3 separate regions of the Homo sapiens genome follow, and all the other regions are linked to region 1. Evidence: fine-mapped expression QTL. A gene starts in region 1. Each other region holds a variant in brackets. All regions are shown on one strand. Distances are between the middles of the regions.

The links. PIP is the estimated chance that this variant, and not a neighbour inherited with it, causes the effect.
Region 2: its variant is the best candidate, but not a certain one, in a credible set for the expression of CLN5 in monocytes (Fairfax 2014, PIP 0.55).
Region 3: its variant is the best candidate, but not a certain one, in a credible set for the expression of CLN5 in blood mononuclear cells (TOPMed, PIP 0.65).

The regions. Positions count from the first base shown.
Region 1 is chr13:76,987,408-76,995,689 of GRCh38, forward strand. It overlaps CLN5 (CLN5 lysosomal BMP synthase), which reads left to right and starts at 4,674. Exons shown (of 4, transcript NM_006493.4): 1 at 4,674-4,864; 2 at 7,656-7,821. The coding sequence starts at 4,692. It also overlaps the pseudogene DHX9P1. RefSeq lists silencers at 4,008-4,097, 4,188-4,257, 4,718-4,957 and an enhancer at 4,979-6,178.
Region 2 is chr13:77,053,094-77,061,375 of GRCh38, forward strand. MYCBP2 (MYC binding protein 2) reads right to left here. Exons shown (of 83, transcript NM_015057.5): 76 at 8,076-8,208; 77 at 6,430-6,533; 78 at 5,125-5,313; 79 at 3,893-4,000; 80 at 2,465-2,674. Among named protein-coding and RNA genes, the nearest start is that of MYCBP2-AS1, 18 kb to the right of the region's middle. The variant T/G (reference allele first, on the strand shown) is at 3,766.
Region 3 is chr13:77,150,273-77,158,272 of GRCh38, forward strand. It overlaps MYCBP2 (MYC binding protein 2), which reads right to left. Exons shown (of 83, transcript NM_015057.5): 45 at 7,665-7,837; 46 at 5,786-5,930; 47 at 462-677. Among named protein-coding and RNA genes, the nearest start is that of MYCBP2-AS2, 73 kb to the left of the region's middle. The variant T/C (reference allele first, on the strand shown) is at 4,884.

The DNA of each region.
Region 1 (8,282 bases):
GGCTAACCTCCTCATTGAGCCTCGTTTTGGCAAAATGATGATAATGGTGTGTATTTTCTATGTGGGAGATGCTATCTGTACCATTCCTGCTGCTACCTGCTTTCCAGAGCCTTTTATAAATGAAGGAAAGTGGCTGGGCTACAACCATTGAAATTTTGCTGGAAACGGATTTTCTCATCATGTAGCCCTTTTATCAGTATTCCAAGCCGGAGATGATACTAGAATGGGTGGAGAAGAAGCAGAAATACGTTTTTGTGCGCACAAAAGACTTCATATGGCTACACTAAGAATGACTTGGGAAGTCAAAGTTCAGCTCAAAGAGATTCTGATTAATTCTGGGTTTCCAGAAGATTGTTTGGTGACACAAGTGTTTACTAACACTGGACCAGATAATAATTTGGATGTTGTTATCTCTCTTCCTGGCCTTTGGTGTGTACCCCAATGTATGCTATCATAAGGAAAAGACAAAGATTCTCACCACTGAAGGGTGTAATGCACTTATCCACAAATCATCTGTTAATTGTCCTTTTAGTAGCCAAGACATGAAGTACCCATCTCCCTTCTTTGCATTTGGTGAAAAGATTCGAACTCGAGCCATCTCTGCTAAAGGCATGACTTTAGTCACCCCACTACAGTTGCTTCTCTTTGCCTCCAAGAAAGTCCAATCTGATGGGCAGATTGTGCTTGCAGATGACTGGATTAAACTGCAAATATCTCATGAAGCTGCTGCCTGCATCACCGCTCTCCAGGCAGCCACTGAGGCTCTGGTTGTTGAAGTAACCAAACAACCTGCTATCATCAGCCAGTTGGACCCCGTAAATGAAAGTATACTGAACATGATCCGTCAAATCTCTAGACCCTCAGCTGCTGATATCAACCTTATGATTGGCAGTACATGGTATGGAGATGGTCCAGGTCCTCCTAAGATGGCCCAATATGACAATGGAAGCGGATATAGAAGGGGAGGTTCTAGTTATGGCAGTGAAGGCTATGGCAGTGGCTATAGCAGTGGAGGCTATCGTAGCGGAGGCTATGGTGGCAGCTCCAGCTCCTGTCGGGCAGGATATGGTGCAGGTGTTGGTGGAGGCTATAGAGAAGTTTCCTGAGGTGGCTATAGAGGCAACTCTGGAGGAGATTACAGAGGGCCTAGTAGAGGCTACAGATGATCTGGGGGATTCCAGCGAGGAGGTGGTAGGGGGGCCTATGGAACTGGCTACTTTGGACAAGGAAGAGAAGGTGGCATCTGTTAAGGCTTGGTTATGTCAGTTCCTGTGTGTAGACAGTAAGAAAAAAAAAGCCATGCTATGTGTGACATTTTTTTCCAATGTTTATTTCCCACCAAAAAGTAAATGCATTTTAACCCATTCTGTGGTTCACTGTAGCTTAAGGAAACCAAGCATATAGATGCATTAGTGATTTTGTTTATATTATGTAAAATGTAACGATCTATCTTAGAAATACCACAGTTTGTATTTTTCTTTAAGGAGTAAAGATTTGTCTTTAAAAATAACTTGATATTTTCCTGGCTTTCATTTAATACAATGGAAAATAAAGTATTACACGAAAAAAAAATTTTTTCTTAGAGACAGTATCTCATTATGTTACCCAGGCTGAAGTGCAGTGGCTATTCACAGGCACGATTATAGCTCACTATAGCCTCAAAGTCCTGGGTTCAAGCCTCCTGAGTAGCTAGAACTTCAGGTACATGCCACCTTGCCTGGCTTCCTGCTTTCTTATTCACTAAGAAACTTTGTTCTCTAAAATCATAGATTAGAGACAACTTCGTGTTTGAAATTACATCAGTAACAATAAAATATCCCACCTTTGCTTGAAGGACCTCAGTCATTCCACACAGAGAATTGGCCTCAATTTACAACCCAGATGTCAAGCTTCTGATAAGGGGTTTCCAGACACAAAACTCCATCGCTATTTTAACTTCATAGTCTCCAAGGAAATAGGCCCTTCATCCACTTTGCAGTCTAGACCTAGAGCCTGTGTGTTGATGGCAGCAGCAGGCCGTCTGGAGCAGCCACTACCATCATTGACATACAGCCTTGTTTTGCTTTGAGTCTACCAAAATACTGCTTATTTAAATTTCATCTCAACTCCACACTTCCCCAGAATCCTATCACTCTATCTGGGGAGATGCCATGTGGTCCAGGCAGTCTTAGGCTGAATGGGCAAGGATCCAAGGGAAACCAATTAGATTGAAATTAGTTCTGTCTGTGGGCCCTCAAGATTTAAAAGCCATGGACAAGGGGGAAGCAACCAGTATCGACCAGCGATAATCTATGAGCACCTTCAGCTTGGGGTGTGGGGTCATAGACAAAAAGAATGGGGTTTAATCAGTGTTCCCATCCAAGGCAAAACCAGACCAGAAGAATGGGAGCTACCAGGAGGCTGAGTTAAGACCAATACTAGGGCCAGGCATGGTGACTACAGCCTGTAATCCCAGCACTTTTGGAGGCCGAGGCAGGTGGATTACTTGAGGTCAGGAGTTCGAGACCAGCCTGGCCAACATGGTGAAACCTCGTCTCTACCAAAAAAAAAAAAAAAAATTACAACTGGCACACACTTGTACCCAGCCACTAGGGAGGCTGAGGCAGGAGAATTGCTTGAACCCGGGAGGCGGAGGTTGCAGTGAGCCGAAATCACATCACTGCACTCCAGGCTGGGTGACAGAAGGAGACTCCGTCTCCAAAAAAATAAAAAATAAAAACCAATACTAGGAAGTGCTTTCTTACCATGAAAGCTCCCTGCACACAGAATGAAGAGACAGATGGCAGAAGCAAGACCAGAGGCCTCCACCACTGAACAAGGTCAACCTGAATTTGTTTTTGTAGCTCTGGGAAGTCCTGAACTGAATGGGAGGTTCTACTGTGGCCCTCTACTAACAGTAGATGGAACCTGGAACCATCTACTGTTAATTGTCCTTTTAGTAGCCAAGACATGAAGTACCTATCTCCCTTCTTTGTATTTGGTGAAAAGATTTGAACTCGAGCCATCTCTGCTAAAGGCATGACTTTAGTCACCCCACTGCAGTTGCTTCTCTTTGCCTCCAAGAAAGTCCAATCTGATGGGCAGATTGTGCTTGCAGATGACTGGATTAAACTGCAAATATCTCATGAAGCTGCTGCCTGCATCACCGCTCTCCAGGCAGCCACGGAGGCTCTGGTTGTTGAGGCCATCTACTGTGGCCCTCATACATCATACTGTGTATGGTTCCAGGATTTGTAAATGCTCTAATCAATGTTTTTTTTTTTTTTTAAAGCTGTTCCTGCTGATTGCTTTTTAAGCTAGGCTCAAGTGTGGGGCCACGGAATCCTTCAGGTGCCCTTCAAATCAGACATTACATTTCAGCTCTCAGGGCTAGAATGCTTCCCCCTCTTATCTTGGGCAGGTCTTTGAAGAAGCCAGTTTAGCCTTGGTAATTTTGAATTTGGCCATAGTATACGGAGGAGAGCTAGGTAGCTATCAAAACGCTTAGACAAACGTATGGTAAAATGCAGCCCAGCCTGAACCTCCGCAAAACCCCCAAACCTGGAGCAGCAAGTGGGCAAAGGAGTGTGTGTTTGGGGCAGGGTACTGAGTCCCATATGTAATCAAGAGACCTGGAGGGCCCAAGGAAGTCAGTGACACCCCCACAAGCTACATATCCTCCAATGGATTGTGGTGGTCATCTCCGGCTACCGAAGCCACCTTGCTTATTCCCATAGGCTTACAAACATTATGATGCTTCACACGAGTTGTGGGTGAAGTGAAGGAATTGGAAAGTCCCGGTCTAAGGCCCTGCAAAACTGCTGTCTGGTAAAAACAAGTGACTATGGCAAGGCCCTGAATGTACTACGTATAGACTTAAGTCAGTATTTGTGCCTAACAGCAAAGCATGCCACAAGAGGCTCCTCAAAAGCCGGGTAATTGATGCCATTGTTTTCTTGACCTAGTTGAAGAGTCAAAGAAGAGAAGGTGATGCAGAAACTTCTTTCCAGTGAAGTGACAGATCCAAGCAAGGAACACCTGCCTGTGAGGGGAGCGGTAGGGGAGGGGGTAGATTCGGCAGCACTCGGGTAGTGGCAGGGACCACATATTGTCGGTGTTAACCACTGTTATCACTGGCCCAGGTCGAGTGAGGACGAGTCATTTCCCCACTAAGCACTTGGGGAGTGGCAGGGACCACATATTGTCAGTGTTAACCACTGTTATGACTGGCCCAGGTCGGGTGACGACGAGCCATTTCCGCACTATTGTCCCTTCTTCCTCACTGCACCCCCAGCCCTGCACCCTCAGCTCCAAATACACATTCTCGTTCACTCAACGTTTGTTGACACCTAGCGTGGGCCCTGTGGGATGGGGTAAAAGTTCGGTGTTGGGAGGAGCCCCGGTGACAGATTTTTGGTTTTGGTGGTGGCTTTTGGGCAAGGACAGGTCAATTCATAAAAGATGACGCCCCAGGTCTGGATCGAATTCTCCTGGGAGCCAGACCAAAGCACCTTCCTGGACTGCAAAGTGTGGAAGCCGCCGCGGGCCGGGCGCGGGGAGGTGTCATGCGCCGGAACCTGCGCTTGGGGCCAAGCTCTGGAGCTGACGCGCAGGGGCAAGGCGCCCCGCGTCCCGGACTGGCGGCTCCGCGCATGCTCCTCCCACCGGCGTCGCAGGCCTCGAGAGGCTCCGGAAGTACTGGGTGCAGCCTGATGGCGCAGGAGGTAGACACGGCACAGGGCGCCGAGATGCGGCGGGGCGCGGGCGCGGCTCGGGGACGCGCTTCCTGGTGCTGGGCCCTGGCGCTGCTTTGGCTCGCGGTGGTTCCGGGCTGGTCCCGGGTCTCGGGCATCCCCTCCCGGCGCCACTGGCCGGTGCCCTACAAGTGAGTGCGGCGGCGCGCGCACTGTCGGGGTTGGGGTCGGCGTTGACGATGGGGGATGGGGTGCTGGGGCGGGGACCCCTGCTCACCGTGGTTTGTGTCGGGTCACGAGATGGTGCGGGGACAGCGCCGGGTGACGCTCGGAGCGCACTTGAGAGCAAAGTTGAGGACTGGGGAGTCGCAGCCGCTCGTTACGTGCAGCCCTGGGACCTTTCGTCCCCTCTGGTCACTTGCGGCAGACTCAGGACAGTCCTGAATCGTGGAAGAAGAAAAGGAGAGTAATGTTATTTAATGGAGGGACTTCTGGGTACAAGTAGCTGATTTCTTGAGTAGTTTAAAAACACTGTCTATCGCATTTATTTATATCATGCACTGTCGTTAGTTATTACCGCGGAACATTTGGTACAATTTACTGGGCGACCAACTCGCTCTGGTTTGAACCTGATCAGAACCTGATCCGAAGTCCTTATTGGGACTTCCCAGTTTTGCCCTCAAAAGTCGCGCATCCCGGGAATCCCCGTCTCCTGCAGTCCTGGTTAGACCGGGAAGATTGTCACCGCTTTTGTCCAGTCTTCAGCCTGGAGGTAGGACGCCGGTCCTAAGTCGGGGACAGAGCCCGCACACCTGGGAGGTCGATTCCAGCCTTTGACAGAGAAGACACAGCCTCCGGCGGTCAGAGATAGCTAAACACAGAGAAAGAAAACATGGTGTCAACATCAGGCAGGAGAAAGACCAGCAGTTTTTGAAAACAGCTATTTTTCTTTAAACCAAAAGCATCATTGGACATAATTTTAACTTACTAGCATAAGTAATCAACAGCTAAAACTGCACACAACAAACCTGAAAAAAACAGCTATTTTGTATGACAGTATGAGTGGGAAGGAGTTCTGCCTGCTGCGGGTCAAATCTGGCTCTGTCATCACCAGGGATCTTGGGAAAGTTACTCAGAATCTCTGTGCCCACATGCCCTGAGTCAAAAAATAGGAATAGTGGTAGCACGTACCTCATAGGTTTGCTGGAAGGATTAAATCTAGTAAAATGCCAGCTGTTGTCAAACCTAGATAGTGTATTCTGCTCACTGAAATGTTTACAACACTTTTTTGTTTTGTGTGATATACTACGTGGAAAGAGAAGTTTGTGGTTGAAGCTAGTTTTCTGGAAAATGTTAATAATAAAATGTTTGTAAGAAGTCAAAATTACTCAATAGAACAAGAATTGTAAATCCAAACGATTTGATTTAACATTAGGGCAAGGTGTTGACTATGGCTTTTTAGTGGATTTTTTTTTTAAGTCTCAGATATTAAGTACGTGCTCCCATCTAATTCCCTCAATTGAATATAATATTTAAGTTTATTAAGTTCACACTTAAATTACCTTTGAACTAAAATAGATTTTGCTGTGTCAGTGAAATCTCCATGTGATTATGTATTTGTTTAAACCAGGTAAGTGCCTATAAAACACTGTACCCAAGTAGCAGAAACTTTTGGGAGCGTCGTTAATAGTTTCGATTAGCATAAAGATTTTAACTTCTTAAGTTAAAATAGAAATTTTTGTTGATTTGTTAAGATTTGTTAGATCTGGCTACAACCTTGGGGATCTAGGATTCTTAGATAGAAGCTGTTGTCGCCACCACTTCTTTCTTTCCCAGTGCCAGATTATAGGTGACCAGTGTGTCTGTTGAGCTGAATTCAGCTGCAGTGCCCCTCGAGTCCTATTGCTGTGGCCTTCTCCGGTCTTCTTTTCTTGCCTGCATTGTTGAGGTCACCTTCTAACTGATCTCTCATGTTTTATTTGGCCTCTCTCCATACCCTCTTTTAATTCGTGAAATAAGGTTTACTTTATAGCAAATTCAGTCCTGTCAGATCTGCTACTTAACATCCTTTAAGTTTAGCCCTCCCCAATTATAAGGCAGGGAATTCCATGCACATTCTCCTAGTGACAAAATGACAGCCCCTGCCAGTCTCTTCCGTCTCCATTCCTGCGTCGAGGCCTGAAATCCAGTCTTCCGTACCTACCGGAGACCAAATGTGCCAGGCTTGTCTTACAATACTTAACATTTCCTCTGCCTTTCTGTCTTAACCTTCTAATCAACTACATTAAAAACCTAGGCCCGGCCTTCATCTCTTTCTTTGCCCTCCCCACCCCATTCATCCCATACCTGGTTAACAATGATTTGTCCTTCCTGTGTGCCCATAGGACTCATTCCTTTAGTCTAGCACATACCACACTCATTACTTGTTCAGTGTCTTTCCAGCTCCCACCCACAGTTCCATGAGAAAGGGAACAGTGTTTTAATTTTTGTTTCCCTCCTTCTTACTATAGTTCACTATATATGTAGTGGAGCCTCAATAAATATTGGTTGAATGAATGTTAATTCGTAAGTAAATATAAAATGTATTCTGTTACTCATAATTATCTGAATAATCTTAATGTATGGACTGTTTGTAAAATTGAACACATTGGAAAAATGTTCATTTATTCTGTAAACATTTGCAAATGTCTACTATGATCTGGAGCTATAAAAATTTTAAGACAAAATTCCTGTCTTCAAAATTTTCACAGTGGGATCAGGGAACAGGGAAGCCCGTATTTATCAGAGTGCTTTTAGTTTATCATTTGCTATTAAAAACATTATTGGAAGTTTGTTCACAAGATAACAAAATGTGTGTTTATATTTATTAACTATGGTCCGACCTTTGAATGGTCCCCTAAAAATGTTACTGGATTCTAAAAGACGTGAGAAGAATCAGATTCATTTTAGAATCTAAGTAGATGGTTTCTTTTTCTTTATTAGGCGCTTTGACTTCCGTCCAAAACCTGATCCTTATTGTCAAGCTAAGTATACTTTCTGTCCAACTGGCTCACCTATCCCAGTTATGGAGGGTGATGATGACATTGAAGTTTTTCGATTACAAGCCCCAGTATGGGAATTTAAATATGGAGACCTCCTGGGACACTTGGTAAGGATGCATCTTGGTCTTATAACTTTGGTTAATTCAATGATTTGGTTATTAAGTTGATTTTTAAGGAGTAATCACTATTTAGATGGCTGACTTTAGATCATGTTGGTGTTTGTCTTAGTACATTTAAAATGAGTAGTCAAAAATAGTTACTATCAGATTTTGTAATCTTGACAACAACAAATGTAATCACCATTATCCATTGTAATATTATGAATCTGAAACCAGCTCCTGTACCTAGCTCCTGGAAGGTGAGAAGAGGCCCAGAAGTGGCAGGGCAGGCAGGTAACACCTCTTGATTTCCATACTCTGTTGTAGTCACTTTTCCAGGTTAACCCATCACCATGTGAGGTCTGTAGAGCTGCTTCCAGAGACTGGCATGGGGGCTCCTCACACTTATTCTAAGCTCTAAGGAAATTATCAGCTTGTCCACATAACATGCAGGCCTCCTATTTGAGATG
Region 2 (8,282 bases), 66 kb after region 1:
TGCCACTGCACTCCAGCCTGGGTGATATGGTGAGACCCCGTCTCAAAAAAAAAAAAAAGGCAAATTTGATAATTCTGTTCAGAATTCTGCTCATAGTTATAAAGTTATGCAGTAGGCAGGAACTCAACAGTTTCCAATACAGACACTTGCATAAATAGAATTTGAATAAATAAAATTATCATGAATAAATAAAAATATCATGATGGGTGATTTATCTGTATTTGCCCTGGGCAGAGATTAAGTGAGGCCAAGGAACTGGGACAATTTGCATGCACTGATTGTCTCATAGTCAAAAAGCTATGTCCGGATTGGGAATAAACAAACTGAGTCAATATAAATCTATTATCTATACTAGAAAAACAGGTCCAAAGACAGGATCCATTGATGCAGAGGTTATAAACGGTCGTTCACCAGCTAAACCTAACCCTGGAAGTATTTCGGTTTGTCTTGGGGACTGCTTACTCCAGCTGTTTCACTTTTCTATATCCTCTGCTTGGCTTCCTAAGCATTTGACTGCTACCCTGTAATAGCACAATATTCATTTATAATGTTTAGTACATGAAACACACAGAAATACTATTTTATTATTTGTAACAATACAAGCTTCATAAATGTGCACTATTGGGTGTGCATGTATTTATCTGCCTTTCTGGCTATCATCTCTCTACTTAGACATCCATTCATCCTCTGTATTTTCTTTTTGCTACATTGGGAGACTATGCACCTTTCTCATGTAGTCATTCTTTCACTCATTTATTCATTCTCCACTTAACTTTGTATCTAGTAAGTGCAAAGTACTAGAGATAGAAAAATGAAAAAACATACTCTTTGTCCTCATGGAACTTATCAAGTAGGGCAGAGAGATAAGTGGTCCAGTAGTCATAATGCAGAATAGGGAGTTCTATGCTAGATGCCTGCAAGATACCAAAATCATGTGGTGGTGGTGTTGATGGAAGTGAGATGGGGGTATGTTACAGAGGAGGTGAAACCTGAGCTGAAGCCCGAGGTATGACAAGACAGATTAGGCTCTGCATGACAGCATGTGTGTATGGGGTTGGGGGTGGCAGGTCAGAGTAAAATATGCAGGGGGAGGTAGAGAAGAGCATCCTTTAAACACCAATGGCCTGTGCAATGGCATGGGGGTGTCAGTGGGTGAGCAGACAGGGCTGAGTTTGGGAAATGCAAGTTATTTGGTATGTGGCAGCAAATGGAGAGCAAATGGTAGCATCTTGGGAGATGAGACTGGAGAGGGAGACTGGGCTACCGTATTATAAGTAGAAGAGTGATCCAGTTAGATTTTAGATCTAGAAGTATTAATTAGCAGCAGTGTAAGGGATGCAACAGAGGAATTAGGGGTTCTACACCCGAGCTCAGGAAGAAGGCTACTGTAATTACCAAGGAAAATGATTAGGTTTGCTGGAGATGTAATGGAAAGAAAAAAGGACTCAAGAGAGATCTGGAGACAGAATTGATAGGATTTTGTCAATAAAGATCAGAGATTGGTAAAGTCTTTTTTTTTTTTTTTGAGACAGGGTCTCACTATGTCACCCAGGCTGGACTGCAGTGGCACAAACACAGCTCATTGCAGCCTCAACCCCCTGGACTCAAGCGATTCCCCTGCCTCAGTCCCCCAAGTAGCTGGGACTACAGGCAGATGCCAACCTACCTGTCTAATTTTTGTATTTCTTGTAGAGATGGGGTTTTGCCATCTTGCCCTGGGTGGTCTCAAACTCCAGAGCTCAAGAAATCTGCCCACCTTGGCCTCCCAAAGTGCTGGGATTACAGGTGTGAGCCACTGTGCCCGGCCAAGATTGATGAATATAATACCTGACATGTGAACTCTGAAGTATGTGTGAGAGATCCAAATGTCTGGTACGCAGTTGGTTATTTGTAACTAAATCTCAAAAATTTTGGGGGGTCATAAACATATACATGGTAGGTGAAGGTATAGATGTAAAAGAGGTCACCCAAGGTAAGGAAGTATTTATTAAGTAGGCAAGAATGGAGCTCTAGGAAAACAAATATGTAAGGGGTAGGTTAAAAAAAAAAAAAGAAGAAGTAGTTAAAGATAAATGACTAGAAAGGAAGGAGGACAGAAAAAGAGTGTGTTGTCCTGGAAGCCAAGGAATTAAGGGTTTTAAGGAAGGAATGGTTAGCAGAGTCAAGTGAGAGAAGTTTATTCGAGAAGGAATTGCCCTGGGCCAACAGGTTATTACTGATGGGAAGCAGCTTGTATACAGAAATACTGCATGTTTCGAAAAGTTTGTTCAGGTTAAATAAAGAATCCCCAAACAAGTTAAGTAAACAAGTTTTACTGGAAACATTGGGAAACATTGTACCAAGCTATCTTATTTTTAACTTCAGGCTTAAGATGGAATAATTAGATATCACTGTACAATTTGAATTCTTAATCATATAGGTAAGCTCTAGTTTTTAAAACTTCTCAGTATAATTTATAGCATACCTTTCTGCATTTGTAGCACACATAATATGCATATCTATTCATTGCATAGCCAGCTGGGTCATTATAAAACCTCACACCAGGAGTTGTGATAGCTTCACTCTTATGCAGACCTTCATATTCCAATCTCATTAAGGCTTTTCTTCTGACATCCTCATAGAGTTCTTTTATTGGATCAAGTAGGTCTTTTAGTACTATGTGATTAATTTTGTTCTGCAATAAAAAATGAACACTCTTTAGCAGAATCATTTATTAACCAACTCAACAAACACTTAGCATGCACCTAAGTGCCAAGCATTGTGCTAGAAGATAACCAGACAGCACACATATTCTAAATAAAATGTCATTTGAAAAACATTCTGTAAATTCTTTAGAAGCCCATATTTTTCCAAGAGCAGGGAAAATGGGGCAAATGGGACACAGAGCATGAAAATTCCATTTTATTAGCTTTATATTTCCTGCGTCTGAAATATATCTCCTGTTGCCCTAGCTATTGTGGAAACAAAGTTACCTTGTTGCCACAAATAAGACACGCTCTGTGTTTGGTGTGTGTGTGTGTGTGTGTGTGTGTGTGTGTGTGTGTGTGTGTGTGTGTGTGTGTGTGTTTTGCTTCCTTGAGGGGAAGGCAGAACGCCAGGTGACAGAAGTGAACAGGTAGTATTTGCTGTAAAACTTTCATGTATCTATTAATATTTGTAGCACCATATGATAGGGGAGAGCAAAATACTACAATCTTTTTGATTATTCCTCAGTCTATCTAGACAATGATTGTGCTAAGTCTTTCCACATTCTACCCTTTATATTAGTTTGCAAATACGAAGATAAGAAAATAGGGAGAGCTTAATAGAACAAAAAGGGGCGATGAATTAATAGGGAAAGTACTGCCACATTCTTCAAAAACAGCTTTTTGTTAATCATTATTAGCTTGCCAAAACAACTTCCTACTTGCTGACTACCTTTGTACAAATGTGTCAAAATGCCAAGAACTTTCTCCTTGTTTTAACTAAGCTCTAAAAGAATCTGTTCTAGTGGTACTGAGGGTTCCAATTTCACTCTTTAATGGCAGGTATCAGTTTCTACAAACACCAGAGGATCATTCTTCTTTTTGGTAGCCGTTGTCATGTTATGTCAACTGAGCTCTCTAGTGGTCTGAGAGTAGAGATGCATGCCCTTTAATGCATCACGATGTTTAAATGAACTTTCTCATGTAATATGTTTAACAGAATGTAATCAGTTTTAAATGGACAATTACTGTTTTGAGATGCATTATAACAGAGAGATTATATTCTCAGGTTCCACATGAA[T/G]GAGAAGGGAAGAAACTGCTAGGGGCTGGTGGGTAAAACCAAGAGATACTGACATATGTTTATTTTGAAAGGTGAAAAGAAAGAACAAAAGAAAAAGAAAGTACATGATTTCAGATTCTTTCCATACCTTGCAAATGGGACAAGATATAAATCCAAATGTTATCCTTGGGCCAAGCCATCGATTTTCTAATACTCGCCGACAGCACTGTAAGTGGAATATGTGACTACAATCCAGCTTAAATAAACAAAAGAAAAGGACATAAGCAAATATAATAATGATAAACAGTTGAGTGACTGGGAGATTATTTAATGCAAGGCACTACTTAAAGCAGGTAAGAGAAAAATCAAGAAATTTACTATAATGAAAATTCATTGGGACACTGAAATTGGGACATTATTATTTACTAAATTTCATTACAGTAAATTGGGATACTATTAACTAGGCCTTTGGCTTCTCCTGCTTTTTAACATTCATGCCACTTATATAAAGTAAGCTAGGTTAGGAAAAAAAGTAAAATTATTCAATTTTGTATCTCACAGAAAGAAGAAGAAATTACTGACTTATGATTTTCTTTTGGAGACTATTATTATCTTGGAATCATGAGAACTGAAAATATAAGCAATGGGCAAAAGTTAAAAAAACCTATTTAGTGCACAGTAACTTGTGTATGTATAGAAGTATGTATCATTATGTATAGATCAATTATATAATGTTGTAAAAATACCATTCTGGATTTTGGAAATTAAGAAGAGCCTTAGCTACTGGGGGATAATCTAATTATTTCCCCCTGGCTTCTGAATATTTTATACATTCTGTTGATTACAGAGGTTCACACAAATCACAAATTAAAGCTGAGCATGCAACATAGAAAGCACAGCATAAAGAGGCAGAATTTGCTCCTCATTAGCCTGGTACATGTATAGATTAAAAGAACACTTCTGCCTAGTGATATAAAAAAAGATTTCAATCAACTGCTTTTTTTTTTTTTTTTTTTTTTGAGACAGAGTCTCGCTCTGTCACCAGGCTGCAGTGCAGTGGTGCCATCTCAGATCACTGCAAGCTCCGTCTCCTGGCTTCATGCCATTCTCCTGACTCAGCCTCCTGAGTAGCTGGGACTACAGGCACCCACCACCACGCCCAGCTAATTTTTTTGTATTTTTGTAGTAGAGACGGGGTCTCACTGTGTTAGCCAGGATGGTCTCGATCTCCTGACCTCGTGATCCACCTGCCTCGGCCTCCCAAAGTGCTGGGATTACAGGCATGAGCCACTGCGCCCGGCCTCAATCAATGTTTATTTGACAAATATATTCCCCATCTTAATGTCTGGATACATTCAATACTTTAAAAGCTGAGGCAACCTGAATGGCTGGTGCTGCCGAGAGCGCTTCGGTGAAACATATCATGCACATGTCATCGGCGTCTTGCTTCAGGCTTGTGGCACTTTTGTCACAGCCGTGTAGACAGGGCAGACAGTGCTCTTCGTTTTTAACACCCCCGCATGGATGGCCACAAGGATGCGTCTTACTACAGGCTATCTTAGCGTATTCCTGTTAAAGATGAATTACAATGTTACACAAGTATGTAAAAAAGCACACATTCTGGTAATTTTCCTTATTATATAAATTTCCAAAGATTACTTTCCCACAGGAAGTATCTATGCAGGCCAAGTAACAACAAAGTAAAGTTATTTCTAATCTTTGTTTGAATATAAATTAGGCTTCTTAACAAAGTTTTTTTTTTTTGATGCGATTTTTAAAAAATGCCACTCTCTATAAAGGGAATGCTGATAAGTGAATTATAATTTCATATTTGTCATCATGCACAGCTATAAAGCAAAAAGTTCCTGGCTGGGAGTCGTGGCTTACACCTGTAATCCCAGCACTTTGGGAGGCTGAGGTGGGCAGATCACGAGATCAGGAGTTTGAGACCAGCCTGACCAATATGGTGAAACCCCATCTCTACTAAAAATACAAAAATTAACCAGGCATGGTGGCGCGCGCCTGTAATCCCAGCTACTTAGGAAGCTGAGGCAGGAGAATCGCTTGAACCCGGGAGGCGGAGGTTGCAGTGAGCCGAGATCGTGCCACTGTACTCCAGCCTGGGCGACACAGCCAGACTCCGTCTCAAAAAAATAAAAAATAAAAAAAGTTCCCCAATGTATAATTTCCCAGTCACCACTCTCCGCATCACCAAAATGCAGATTTTTTTTTTTTTTAAAAAGGTACCTTTGACTCTCTGAGCATATCCACATTCTTATTAATTGAGAAACCAAAAACATTTGGACAACATAGAATATGTTTATATATGTTCAGGATTAAAGAACTCTTAGATGTTGAAAATGTATTTTAAGGAAATAAGTGAATAATGTCTGTAAGAGATAAAGGAAATACAGTTCATAAATTTTTAACTGTTTCTAGTACAAAAGTAGATATTAAATACATATGATCATGGTAACTGAGAAACATACAAAAAGAGTGTGGTTTGGGCTTGAGAGCCTTATTTGACCCATTCTTCAACTTTGGTAAGGCATTTGATGCTTCACATAGGTAATACACTCATTTAGGAAGCTGGAGTGACGCTGAGCTAAAACTCTTTTCTGTATGAAGTAAAGGTGTCACAGGGGAACATGGACAATGGGATGGCCTGTGTCACTATATACTCACCTGGCAATCTGCATCAGAACAAACACTGCCAACAGCAGATAACTCTGTTCCACTCCTGGAACCACAGAAGCGACATGCTTCTGAGCTACTCGTGGTGGGTTTGCCTAGGTTCAAGCAGAAAAATAAAAATCCTTCTTATGGATGTTTTCTAGATATGTTAACAGAACTAAATTTTAAAAAGCAAACTAGGTTTGTATAAGTTGCTATCCTTGGGAAATCAGCCTGACAGTTTTAGAACGGAAGGTTTCTAAGTTGTCCTAATTATAAAGTAAATAATGACACACAAAAAAAGAAATTAAAGACCTATCTGAAGCCAAATACACTCTCGACTAATATTTTTTTTCAGTGAAAGAAACAGACTAGACTTCTAGTCAAGTTACCAGACTGAGCAGCTGTTACAAGCCCCTGACTCCAAATGCACAATACCATAAAAAATATGATAACCAAAAATTAAATAAAAATACACAGAAGTTAGGGAAATCTTTAACTATATATAACAAAATTATAAGGCATGGTATAAAGCCTATCATCAGAGTATGAAACTTGAAAAACAGAATTCCTACCTCAGGAACTCTGCAATTTGAAAAGGAATTTAAATATGTTTGAAATACTTAAAGAAGAAACAGAATCAATAAAACAAGAACAGAGCAATAAGAAAAAGAACGTGAAGATTTGAAAATTACAGACCAAGCTGATTTTTAAACACAGATATAAAAATCTAACTATAATTAATATCAATATATTGAATTCAGCAATATTTACAGAAAAATCTATTTAAAAAGGATGGTTTACAAGGATGGTTTGACATTAGAACATTTATTAATGCAGTATACAGCACTGACAGATTATAGGAGGAAGAAATCAACTATGAGAAAAGAAGGTCATGCTCTTGCAGCATGCAAAGTCACCCTAGAATTAAATTGATTCGGATTTACACCTAACTCCAACACTGGAAGTTCGTGTCAGTCAAATGGCAGACTGCAGATGTGCTGAAAACTGAGAATTTGTAAGATTCAACATAACTTTGAACTAGGAATATACAAGATTTACTTTAGAAAAGCAGCAAAATGAAAACTATGTTTTAGAGATAAAAATACATTTAACATACATAGGTTACCTTTTGTTTTATGTCTATTCATTTTTGTTAATTATTTTATTGCTATCAATGGAAACAGTACCATTCACAACACCTTCAGAAGCATTAGGTCTACAAAAACCTCTAAATATCATAAAATCATACAACCTTATAATAAATAGAGATCTTAGTGATCATCTAGTGCAGCAATTTTTATTGTGGGGCAACAACTAGCAGAACTAGAAGGGAATTATCAATAGAAATGTATTTTATCTATGGAGCCCCATTAGTTGTGATCCTCTCACTTTATAAATGAAGTCAATGAGTTCCAGAGGTTAAGTGACTTGCTCGACACCACACAGCTAGTTAGTGGCAAATCAGGTTTCTTGACTTTTGGTCTAATGCTCTCTTCACCATAGAACACTCTATATATTTAGTAAATATATAGATCAATGATGTCATAATTAAACATCAGAATATCACTCAAAATTATTCACAGTTTAATCAGTTGGCACGGTTTAATCTTTTTTTGTGGGTTTTAAAGGCATGGCTCAATCTTTAAACCTTTTACCTGTGTGTTCTCGGAATTCCACCATTGCCTTCATTGTTTTAGAATCTGCCAGTGCCATCAACCAGAACAATTTGGTTCTACCACAACCTTCATGAAGGTCAACCTTTATAGCTTCTTCTTCTTCTTTGAAGACCTATTATTTCATTAAAGAACAGGGAAAAATATGCTTATTTATCACTCTGAAAGGGAGAGTATAAAATTTAATTA
Region 3 (8,000 bases), 160 kb after region 1:
AACTGCAAATAGACAAGTACTTAGAAATTTTATTTTATTTTTATTTTTTTGTAGAGATGGGGTCTCACTACATTACTGAGGCTGGTCTCGAACTCTTGGCCTCAAGTGATGTTCCCTCCTTGGCCTCCCAAAGCCCTGGGATTATAGGTGTGGGCCACTGTTCCTGGTCAGAAGTAGACAAGTACTTTCACAGGAACTGAAACTCAGCCTAATCCATCTGTATCTCTGATTCGATTAACTTGATCTGTAATTGGTGATCCCCTCTGGACATCTGCCAAAAACCAATGAAAATCCTCTCTGAAGACAGGATAACATCATCTTAATAAGTGTTGCTGCAAATTTAATATCCATCAAATGCTCTTTGGACTTACAATTTCATGTCTGCATCTGAATCACTGAAATGTTGGTTAAATAAACAAATGCTGAAAACTAAAATTTTTCTGATAAGTAAAATAAATTACCTTCATCATTGTTATGGCAATATATCGAGCTTCCTTCACTATCATTGGTTCATATGAAACATCTAGCTTTGGTGATGCCAGCCCTCCATAAGTCATGTCAGTATTAGAAGATGCAGCTGTTACTGCAGGACTGCCAGGAATCCTTTGAGGTTTCTTTGCTTGATCTTGTTGTAAAGACATTTTTTTCTGAGAAACAGGGACAGCTTTCACTTCCACCTAAACATGGTATTATAGAAACCAAATACCATTATTATTTAATTGTCACTGACATCAAAATAAGCAACTTACTATTATAAACTCATAATTATGTATACTTTATGTTAGCATTGGTCTGTCTCTGGCATTCCCTTCAAAGGCTTATTGAAAAGAGTTCAAATGACCTCAAGATGGGTTGACAATATGAACCATGAACACGGTGTAAAAACAAGGCCTCATAGTTTTGGAATACATAATCAGAGATATCAAAACATAAAAACAAATGCACCACTAATAAAGTACAGGAAAAGATAGTGGAATGAATCTACATTAAGTTATTGCAGGGACTAACAAATTATTTTATCAGGTAATGCAAGTGTAAATGCTTTCCCACAATCTCAGCACATTTTAAAGCACTAATGTCAGTTTGAGCTGCACTGTTCTACAGAAGAAAATGTACTCTATTTATAGAAGTTTCAAAAATTAACACTTAATAAAACAAATCTTATACCTAAAGCCCAAATATGTTTCTTTACTCGGGTGAAGAAAGAATATTATTAGACAGCCCTATCACCAACATCAACATTTGATTTAAGCAATCTATTAAATAATTAAACTTTGCAACTCACTTTCTTTAAGAATAAAATGGGACTATCTTTCGTCCACTAACTCTACAGTATAGATGCAAAAAACAGATTCGTTAATGGATGTTAATATACTGAAAATACAAATTGTCTTATAAAAATACCTTTTAGATATATTTTCCAGGAATTATAACTTTGCAACTCAATTTCTTCAACAAAACGGGACTATCTTTGATCTACTAACTCTACTATTTCATCTACTAACTACTATTTCTGAAAAATACTTTTTAGAAATATTTCCCAGAAATTATAAGAAAACATTGTTTTTATTTGTTTATGCATTGGCAGAAAAACACTTGACCCCTAGGCAACCACAAATGTACACACAATTTGAATACCACTTTAGTTCTTCAGCAGGTATCACCATTCTGAGCTTTACTCAAAGTTTCTGCTGCTCCCTACAGACAATAGTTTTGTGGTTGGCAAGAACAGGTAATTCAACAGAATTGTCACAGAAATAGAAAAAGTGCAGAGATAAAAGTGATAGTATTTTTAAGTAATTGAGAGCTACCTCAGAACTACAGACTGTCTTTATGTTTATTGTTCTTAACAACGCGATTCTATGGAATCAGTAGTTTGAGACTTTCGCTATTTATATAATGTTAGGCACAGGTGACAAATATGTTCCATTAAGTGACCACTATCTTCAGGTGAGGTTACAAGAGATCAGTATTTGGACTGACACAAACCCCTGGAAATATTAAAAACCCATTCTTATATTTAAAAAATGGCAGTTTACAGGTATATGGTTAAAATTTCAACTCAAACACATGTGCCAGCATAAAAAGCTTTAAACTTTAAACAATTAAAAAATCTGAAGATGATACAGACAGGAGTCAGGGATATACTGGATAGGAGAAGGTGGTTCCCTGGCAAAGGCCCCACTCTCAAGCCTGGAAACCATGACCCTAAATGAGAACAGTTTATCCTTGTATTCCGCCTAAATGTTGCCTTTTTGGCCAGCCCTGCCCCCCTACCCTATGCCCCTATAAATCCCAGACTTCAGCTAGCAAAGAGACAAGTGGCGAATACCAAGAGGAGAAGCAGCAACTGATGAGACGCGCGGCTTAACCTCAGATGGCACCACTTAGGAGAGGAGCATGGCTGGAGACGGCTGGGCTTCAGGGAAATATCACCTTCTTCTCACACCATGCCCTTTCTAGCTCCCCTTCTGCTGAGAGCCACTTCCACCGTTTGATAAAATCCGCCGTGGCTGGGCGCGGTGGCTCACGCCTGTAATCCCAGCACTTTTGGAGTCTGAGGCGGGCGAATCACAAGGTCAGGAGATCGAGACCATCCTGGCTAACACGGTGAAACCCCGTCTCTACTAAAAATACAAAAAATTAGCCAGGCGTGGTGGCGGGTGCCTGTAGTCTCAGCTACTCGGGAGGCTGAGGCAGGAGAATGGAGTGAACCCAGGAAGCGGAGCTTGCAGTGAGCTGAAATCGTGCCACTGTACTCCAGCCTGGGCGACAGAGCGAGACTCTGTCTCAAAAAAAAAAAAAAAAAAAAAAAATCTGCTGTATTCACGCATTCATCGCGTTTCAAACCATTCATATGACCTGATTCTTCCTGAATGCCAGACAAGAATTCAGGACACACTGGGTGCAGGAACCCAAAAAGGCTGTCATGCTGATTCTTCACTGAGCTGTTTAACACTTAGCCATCCACAGACAACAAAGCTAAAAAAGCATTAATTGTGACACACTCCTAGATGCTGCTGTGGGGCTGGAGCCCAGAGGTGCTTGCCTGGGCCCTGGCACCTGCTTGCCTCAGTGCTCGCCATCCTGCAAGGGGTTTGAGTGCAGCAGTCAAGTAAATGAGCCACACGACACCCACGTCCCAAGTCCCACAAAGGGGTCAAGGGAACTCTCCTGTCTCAAACATATTTGATATTAAATTACAGACACTATTTTTATACATACTATTTCAATTTAACCTTTCTGTAAGCAACTATATTTACCCTAAGTATTTAATAAATTATCATTAGAGTCTATGTGTGTATGCACCATGAACCTTGAAGTAAATCACTGAATAATTTTATACTTTAAGAAAACTGAGACATTATAGAATAACCATTCTGCTTTCTTTTACAAACTGTGTTACTTAAAAAAAAAGTTATTCTTGTATTTCCTATGTGACTTTCTCTTGTCAATAAATAAGATTTCCTTAAAATAAACTTTTTTTTTTAATTCACAGGAAGTTTCAAAAATAGATGAAATGTCCTATGTACCCTTCACTCAGGTTCCCCCAATGGCTACATTTTATCCAACACTGTCAGACACTGATGGTACTGAACCAAAACCAGGAAATTGACATTGGTACAATATGTGTGTTTAGTTCTAACTCATTTTATCACAGGTAGGGAACAGTCATTTTATAAGTAAAAAATTATAACAATAACACTTGTTGCTTTTGAAAGCATTTTGGAACTCATTGAAATATTAGCTGCAAATCAACTTTTATGCTTCAAATAATTAGCTATTACTGCATAAAGATTTTAACAATTTATGAACAGTCTAAAGTGCTCCTAAGACTTCATATACTAATAGGCTGAAAGTAAAATAGGTTAAATTAATTTTGTTTCCAGCTAATATAATATGATATTAATACATTAAACATCAGTAGGAGCACAAATCACTTCTTCTAGATAGTATTTAGAGTGGTTTTCTAGAAAGTTTCTAAATTGGATAAATCTGACATGAATTTAGAGCACACTGAGTAAGAGGTTTAAGTCAAGGAAAGATAGTAGGAGAAGCAAATATATGGAGGAGAAAGAAGAGGAAGAAAAGAAGGAAAAAGGAGAAGGAGGTGAAAGGGAAAGAGGAGAGGGAAGAAGAGAGGAAAAAAAAAAGCAGATCCATCATATGGTTAAAAAAAGAACTCTAAGATGAAAAGAAAAAAAGATGAAGTCTGACTTTCAAATGCAAGATATAAACATACCAGATATCAAAAGAGATAATAAAAGGTGCAAAGGAGAAAACACAAGAAAGAAAATACAACTAAAGAAATATCAGAAGCGTAACAGTATGAACATGGTATTAGAATGTTGTCACATGAATAAAAAACTTAATCTTGAGGGTTCAAAGATTGGATTTAACAACTCACTACATTGAGAAATTCATCAGTGAATACACAATATACAAGCCCTTCAACATCTTAACGTGTATTGTACTGTGATCAAAAATCTGTCCTTGAGTAGTAATTTTTTTCATATCACTATCAGGATAACTTTATTTTTAAATCTTTTTTTCTTATAATTTGTGATGCTTTTTGCATTGTATAGAATAATTCCAAGTAGGCATGAACTCAGTTTGTGAAGGGTATGACTTGCCTTAAAAAATAAGATAGAGAAAGCATCAGAGTATAGCATATTATGTATGTATGTGTGTATGTATATATAAAGTATATTATATGTACTTAACATATGCTATTACATAGACACTATTCCATCATATATTATATTTATATCTTTGGGTTATAATAAAAATTCTGACTATGGATCATGGCCAAATATTTGAAAGATACTGCTAAAAGACTGATTTTGATTTAGTATCAGGGTTGAAACCTTTTCCATACAGTT[T/C]TATTTACTGGTCTTAAGTCATGTAAGCAATGTGTTCTTATTTTTTACTTAGGTAAGATGCTACATTGGCATTGTACTTCTTCACGCTATAAATGAAAGAATGCATGAAGTAGTTGAAATAGTTCTACTGAAAATAATATTGAGGCAAAATTAGCTACCCAATGAGCAAAAAGGATTTTGTGGCTTAATCAGCTCTAAGCTTCAAACAACCAATCACTCTATAAGACAACTTTGAAGGAGGAAAGGGCTGGGGACTGCCTATATAAAATTTTATTCAATATAATTTTTTCAGAAATAAAAGTTTTAAATGAGATATTCATATTAACAGATTAAATCACAAATAATTATGTATAATATGCTCTGAAACATTATTATTAATATTTCAGGTAAGAGGTATCCTAAAAACTCTATATTCATCAATATGGTATACAACTATTTCAATTCCTCATTCTTTTACAATCTAAACTCATATATTTCTAACTTAATGAGTGTTATTTTTAAAATGTGGTTTCAGTAATACCAAACACAGAACGTACTTGAGTCTTTCAAAACTATACACAAAATTTAAAAATGTATTCTTTCATGCATTTATTCAATCAATACATATTGAGGGGCTTCACTGTATGTGTCTAGCACTCTTTAGATGGATACTTTCTTATCCCTCCTTTGAGTCCCCGTAACAGGTAGCAAAATGTAAAGAACAAACTCACAAAAAAAACAGGTGTAACTTGGACACTTGGGGACTAATTAATATAAACAAGTCATTTAAACAAACTTTCAGCATCACCCTTTATATAAAGAGGGTAGAACAAATGGACTCTCAGCACTTGGCATTTCTAAAATTTTATCAGTCATTGCAGCCAGTATATAGATGTCTGCTAATTTAATCCAGTTATAATTACCTTCATATTGGGAACATGTACCACATCCCCATACTGGTCTTTTGTTTGAACAGTTATGGTGGTAGGCCAACCACAACGAATATCATCCTTATTCAGGATCAAAGATGTTTTCTGAGGATCCGCATATGAATCTGGCTGAAGCCACCTAACAGTAATGAAAAACAAATAAACAAAACCCCAAACACTGATCAGCATCTTCAACAATTAATATAAAATTAAGCCAAATGAACAAAACTTGTATCAAACAAAATGCTAAAACATTATCTTCATTTCCAACTCAGTGATAATCATGAGTGTCTCCCTCAGAAACTGTTAAGGACAAATTCATTTAAAAAACATGCCTAAGCACAGGAGATTTCTGATATTTAAATACAGTATAAAAATACTTTTTAAAACCAGGAAACTTGAAATTTTAACTATGGCTAATTTAAAATCACCAAGAACACGAATGTAGGTTGTGCATAATTTGAAGTCCTGAGCAGGCTCATTCTCTCTGAAGGAGCTCCACCTTACTCTGCCATCCTGCAAGCCTGGAAAAAGCAGTGTCTCTGTAAAAGCAGGGGTAGAAATGGCCCTCTACTTGCCTGACAGCAGCCAGGTTCAAGGTGTACTGCCCATCTTTTTTTCACAGTTTCTCAACTATCTTCCTCATTACCTTGCTTTCCACCTAAAATGCATCAATGTTGTGTAATTTGTGATGTTCATTCCTGAATTCATTCTGTGATCTACACATTCAAGTTGTCCTGTGAGCTGAGTAATAAGTAATTCTACCATGCATTACATAAAAACGTCTGCATAGTATAGTAGTGAGGCTGACTTAAGTGATTTGACATTCCTCTCCAATCACTATTTTGTGATTTTTAAAAACTAAAGAGTAATCTCTGCAATTTTAAAATTAAAACCAGAAAAAAGTTGGGATTTTTTTTTTACTAGTAAAATCATGCAGGCCAGCATATTTTTTTCCCTTTTCATCCTAAAAACAAAAAGCAACAAAAATAATCAATTAACAACTATAATAAATTTAATTTAATTAGTTAATTTTTTTTTGAGATAGGGTCTTGCTCTGTTGCCCAAGCTGGTTGCAGTGGCACAATCACAGCAACCTCCGCCTCTAGGGTTTGAGCAATCCTCCCACCTCAGCCTCCAAGAAGCTGGGACTACAGGTGTGTGCCACCATGCTTGGCTAATTTTTGTATTTTTTGCAGAGACAGGGTTTCACCATGGATTGCACTGGCACAATCAAAGCAACCTCTGCCTCCAGGGTTTGAGCAATCCTTCCACCTCAGCCTCCAAGTAGCTGGGACTACAGGAGTGTGCCACCATGCCTGGCTAATTTTTGTATTTTTTGTAGACACAGGATTTCACCATGTTGGCCAGACTTGTCTTCAACTCCTATGCTCTAGCAATCCACTTACCTCAGCCTCCTAAAGTGCTGGGATTACAGGCATGAGCCATTGCACCTGGTCTTATCATATACTATCATAACTATTCCAGCCTGGGCAACATGGGGAAACTCTGTTTCTACAAAAAATACAAAAAAGAAAAATAGCCGGGTGTGGTGGCATATCTGTAATCCCAGCTACCTGGGAGGCTGAGGCACAAGAATCGCTTGAGTCCAGGAAGTGGAGGTTGCAGTGAGCTGAGATCATGCCACTGCACTCCAGCCTGGGCAACACAGTGAGACCCTCTCTCTCAAAAACAAACAAACAAACAACCGCCAAACAAAAATATTAACTATCATTTTATATTTCAGCAAGTTAAACATACATAAACCAGACTTTTTTAAAGTAGTATTTTAATATTCTAATGACTCCCCTCTTTCAGAAATGAAGAAAGATGAAAGCCCTAAAATAAAGTAAGTAACTTAAAGTACATTTACCTTGCAAGCCTTCCACCACTTGATCCTGGGACACAGGCAATAAAATCATCCAGAAAAGACTGTTCATTGCTTTGGATTTGGAGTGGTAAATTTCCCTCAAGTGCTTCTAATATAGTTGGTGAATGAGAAAGAGCTAGACCCTTTCCAAGAATTCCAGAATGGGTTTTGCACACCTGTTAAGTAAAAAAGAATATTTATATATTCTTAAAAATAAAACTTTAATTACATAAAATTTTTCAACATGCAGATACTTTCAGATAGGCCTTTACGGAGAAATCATTTTCTCCACGTACCCCACTGTTCCTTCTTTTAACCCACAGAATAGGAAATTCCTAG